Linked DNA regions of Homo sapiens: region 2 is linked to region 1. A link means that fine-mapping ties the variant in region 1 to the expression of a gene that starts in the linked region. Tissue or cell type: whole blood. Region 1 holds a variant in brackets; the other region holds the start of a gene. All regions are shown on one strand. Distances are between the middles of the regions.

Region 1 (2,500 bases):
GTCTTCCAGACACTGGGCTGTGGGTGAAGACCTGGCTGCCAGCATGCTGCTCACTGCGATGGAGGAGGCTGATGGGCCAGTGGGTCTCGGCAGTTAGCGTGCATCGATCTAGTCACTTAGACCAGAGCACAGATGACCACACAACCCACCTCTCTCAGTGTCCTACCTGTGCCTTTTCAACTGGGTGGGTTGGCCCCCTAGTCCAGTGACTATCCGTTTCATGCTTTTCCAGAGAGTAAACCTCCTGTGGTCACCTGGTGCTGGAGTAGCTACCCACAGTGTAAAGTTGGGGAGTGAGGGATGCAGGGATATCTTTCACCCTCTGTCCCAGAGCACTTGGTGCAGCCTGGCCTCAACCTGGCAAAGACCTAGGGCTGTCACTGGGTGGGCGCACCCCCTCCTCACTGTTACTTAGGACTCTGGTTTCTTGGTCCTCTTGCTGTGTACGTTACCACTGGGCCATCAGCTTTCCAGCTTCTAAAAGGCTGTTGAGGCCACCATTTCCATTCTTCCTGGTTTTTTTTTCTGTGGTTTTAGTCAGGTTTTAAGATGGAAGGGAATTAAATGTGCAGGCTTTGTTCCTCATTTCAACTTGGAGGTTCATATCTGTTATTTATTTATTTATTTAGAGACAGAGTCTCACTCTGTTACCCAGGCTGGAGTGCAGTGGTGCTACCTTGGCTCACTGCAACCTCCACCTCCCTGGTTCAAGCGATTCTCTTGCCTCAGCTTCCCAAGTAGCTGGGATTATGGCCGCACACCACCATGCCCAGCTAATTTTTATATTTACGTATATATTTTTTTGAGACAGAGTTTTACTCTTGTCACCCAGGCTGGAGTGCAATGGCTTGATCTTGGCTCACTGCAACCTTCACCTCCCAGGTTCAAGTGATTCTCCTGCCTCGGCCTCCCGAGTAACTGGGATTATAATGCACGCCACCATGCCTGGCTAATTTTTGTATTTTTATTTTTTATTTTTGAGACAGAGTTTCACTCTTGTTGCTCAGGCTGGAGTGCAGTGGTGGGATCTTGGCTCATTGCAACCTTTGCCTCCCGGGTTCAAGCCATCCTCCTACCTCAGCCTCCCGAGTAGCTGGGATTGCAGCGCCCACCACCTTGCCCTTTTGTATTTTTAGTAGGGATGGGGTTTCACCATGTTGGCCAGTCTGGTCTCGAACTCCGGACCTCAGGTGATCCACCTGCCTTGGCCTCCCAAAGTGCTGGGATTACAGGCGTGAGCCACTGTGCTCAGCTAATTTTTGTATTTTTAGTAGAGACGTTTCACCATGTTGGCCAGGCTGGTCTCGAACTC[C/T]TGACCTCAAGTGATCCACCTACCTCCGCCTCCCAGAGTGCTGGGATTACAGGCGTGAACCACCACACCTAGTCCAAATCTTTTTTTTAATATGGGAAAATCTTTTTTCCTTTATAGTGTCTGCTTCTGGTGACATGCTTAGGAAACCATCATCCTGATATTGTATAACTCTCCTTCTGTTGTCTTGTGGTCCTCTGTGATTTAGGTTTTTAAACACATAGGGTAAAGGGTCCCACATACAAGCTGTGGGCTCCTGTCCCAGGTGGGCAAGCAGGCTGCACACACAGGCAGCAATTTACTGGGAGGCTTCTTGGGTGGGGTGAAGTGGAGCTGCCAAAAATTTATTCTGCCCTATGAGAGTTCACTTGATTGATAGATGTTGTGTTTCTCAAAATTAGAAAATTAGAAGAAACTCACAGAAGTTTCCTTCGAGCAGAACATAAATCGGCTGAGAGGAATCATCCTGCCCCCCTGAGGTCAGGAGGGTGAATCTGTGCCCCAGGGAGGAACGCACCTTCCTGCTTTAGACACCAGCAGAGGACAGAGAAGCTGGCTGTCCTGGGAATTCATGCCCTCATTCAGCAATGGGAAAGCAGTTGGACCAGGGAAGGGGGCCTGGCAGTGTGGCAGGGGGAGCAGTGGTAAAGAGGGTGGGGTCAGGGGAGAGGCCTCACTGAGAGGGGAGAGGGTCCTTGGTGGGAACCAGGGCGGTTGTGGAAGGAAGAGTCAGGGCGTGGAGCAGAGCAGAGCGGGAGTTGGGGTGGGGAGGCCAGTTCATGCCTCATCAACATGCCTGTGTGAGTGTCCTTCTTGCGGGCGGTGGAGCTGGCCTCAGGGTACACTGCAGGTGACTCAGAGCTCCAATGGGAGGGTGGCTCTGCCTGAGGGAGCTGCACATGCTCATTGGGCCATCGTCTGCTGAGGAGGGGGCAACAATAACCTCAACACATGGCGGAGGTGTTTTGGGATGCATCCTATTGCACATTTGGGCAGGTTGTTGCCTGACTTATTTCTTTAACGCATACCTAGCACTTCCTGTATGTCCAGTGCCTTATAATATTAACTACTATCATCCTCAGGGCTACCCGTGAGGTCGGCACTGTCCCCACCCTTTGTGCAAAGGAAGGATAGGGAGGCGCTGCCAGATGGGTTGAGGGCAGACCGGGGCAGCTTGCCTCAGGCCTCCCT
Region 2 (2,636 bases), 22 kb before region 1:
GGCACCACTGCACTCCAGCCTGGCCAACAAGGGCTAAATTCTATCCCCCCCCCCTCAAAAAAAACAATAACGATTTTGGGAGTATTAGAGCAGAAAACGTTTGAAAACATGAACAGCTCTCACATCAACACAAGACATGAAACTCTGTTGGCAAGAGAGGCCTCTTTGGGGAGAGTGCTCACTCCTCTCCCACCCACTCTCTACCACCTTCAACCTCCTGTCTGGGGCACAGTAACAAGGGGTGTAAGGGGTGTACAGTGCCTAGCAGGGGCCTGGCACTTAGGCTTCAGTAGGTGCCAGTCCACAGTCTCCTGAGGCCCATGTTGGTTGGTGTCCACCTGGTGCTTATTGACCACTTGGGCTCCAGATTTTCCTCACGTCACCTCCCTCCCCAGGGTAGCAGATAAAGGCCCCATAGTTCCAAGGAGGCAGAACTTTTACATTCCTAAAAGCATTCTCAGGCCCCCATAACCCCTCATCCCACCTTCAGCTCGCTCACCTTCACCTATCAAATTCGTTTGACATCTGGCCTCCAGCAACTAGCTAGGCTGAGTTCTCCATGAAGGGGACGTGGCTGCTGGTCAAAAGGGAAAGCCCATGTCTAAAAATTAATTAACGTGGTTTAGGGGCCTCACATTCCCAACCCCCAAATACAGCCATTGTGAGATGTGAGATTCAAAAAATCGAAGAGTGAAGCGGTGATGAGAGTCCATCTGGTCGCTCTTCGGATGCGGCGCTAGCAGGCAGTTGCATGAAAGCAGATCCCAGATCACGTTGCACTGGCACACAGTAGGTACCCACACATATTTGATAAATAAACACTCTCTCCCTAGCATTACTATAGATAGCTGGCAGCTTGGCCTGGCATCCCGGAGGGGTCTGGATCTCAGGGACTAGATAAGGCCAGCACACTGAAGAGTTGCAGAAAATGCAGGCGGTCAGGCGCAGGTCTGCTGCGGGAGCACCTGCCGTGTCCGACAGCTGCACTGGAAGAGGGGCGTGTGTCTCCCAGCCGGGCGGAACCGAGACCGCTTCGTCCCCGGCGGGGAACTTCATTTCCCACAAGCCTGTGCGCGAGACTCCATTTCCCACAAGCCCTCCTTCACTTCCGGCTCGGCCGAGGCACTGCGGACGGCTTCCGGGTTTGGGCCTGGCTCTGTGACTGAGGCGGCGGCGGTGGCGGCCAAGCGGGATACGGGCGGCGGGAGCTGGGGAACAGGCATGGACGTTTCCGGGCAAGAGACCGACTGGCGGAGCACCGCCTTCCGGCAGAAGCTGGTCAGTCAAATGTGAGTAGTGGTCGGGGCAGGGGGCTGGATTGTGGGACCTTCCTCCTTAGCGTGGCGGGCGAGGCCAGGGCCGGACCCGTGAGAAACCTACGGCGCCGGGAGACAGAAGGCGCCGGGGACTTGCGTGGGTCCCAGGGCTCGGGCCCCCCCGTCTGTCCCCTCCGTTCCCGACATGGACTGCTCGTTTGCTTTCCTGGGGCCGAGCTCTGCAAACCAACGAGCCCTGGCTTATGAATCATCGTCTTGAGCTTTCTCATTCGTCATTTGTGTGCTTTGGGTGCAGACTTTCCCCCGCTTTTTGAACCACACTGAATAGGGAAAGGGAGAGAAGCAGCCGGCTGTAGTGGGTTTAGCAGGGCTGGGTGCTTCATGGTTTCTCTTCCAGAAAAGCGCATCAACGGTGAAAGAAAGTGATGGGAGGAGGGTGGATGTAAGATGAGATTGGGAAGGTAGTTGTTTGGGGTGTGGGCGGTGGGACGGAGGATCTGAGGGTGACCCCCCGAAGGAATGTGGACTTTGCCGAAGGATGGCAGGAAGCCGCTGTCAGGAAGCGATCGTCGTTTCTGGAGGAGAGCGTGAAGAGCTGGGGTCAGTGGCCCCGCTCAGAGGAACTCTAGCCCCTCACCACCGACTGCTTGTTTCTGTTAGCAGTTTTTTTCATGCGCGTCCGTGTGAAGAGACCACCAAACAGGCTTTGTGTGAGCAATAAAGCTGTTTATTTCACCTGGGTGCAGGTGGGCTGAGTCCGAAAAGAGAGTCAGCGAAGGGAGATAGGGGTGGGGTCGTTTTATAGGATTTGGGAAGGTAATGGAAAATTAGTCAATTGTTCTCTGGTGGGCAGGGATGGATCTCACAAAGTACATTCTCAAGGGTGGGGAGAATTACAAAGAACCTTCTTAAGGGTGGGGGAGATTACAAAGTACATTGATCAGTTAGGGTGGGGCAGGAACAAATCACAATGGTGGAATGTCATCAGTTACGGCTGTTTTTACTTCTTTTGTGGATCTTCAGTTACTTCAGGCCATCTGGATGTATACGTGCAAGTCACAGGGGATGCGATGGCCTGGCCTGGGCTCAGAGGCCTGACAGTTTTTAACTGAGCTTATTGGCGTGTTGTGCTCGCCACAGATTTGCCTGAGACACAGCCCCTTTCCTGAGGGATGGTAAAGGAACCGTCACAGCGCAGTCTTGTCAGTCTGTAATGTGTATACTGCAGGGGTTTCTTGCGAAGCGGCGGTTAACTTGAGCAGACCAGGGGCAGTCTAGTGAGTAGGTGACGAATAAATTGAGTCCTAGAAAGACAAGTAGGAGTGTGAATAGCCACCATTCCAAGCTGAGGAGTTAGGA

Evidence for each region. PIP is the estimated chance that this variant, and not a neighbour inherited with it, causes the effect.
Region 2: MED15 starts here. The variant in region 1 is fine-mapped to the expression of MED15 in whole blood (TOPMed, PIP 0.92).

The regions. Positions count from the first base shown.
Region 1 is chr22:20,528,638-20,531,137 of GRCh38, forward strand. All of the region lies in intron 1 of MED15 (mediator complex subunit 15), which reads left to right. Among named protein-coding and RNA genes, the nearest start is that of MED15, 22 kb to the left of the region's middle. RefSeq lists an enhancer at 1,523-2,500. The variant C/T (reference allele first, on the strand shown) is at 1,313.
Region 2 is chr22:20,506,458-20,509,093 of GRCh38, forward strand. MED15 (mediator complex subunit 15) reads left to right here and starts at 1,153. Exons shown (of 18, transcript NM_001003891.3): 1 at 1,153-1,289. The coding sequence starts at 1,222. RefSeq lists an enhancer at 1,136-1,245.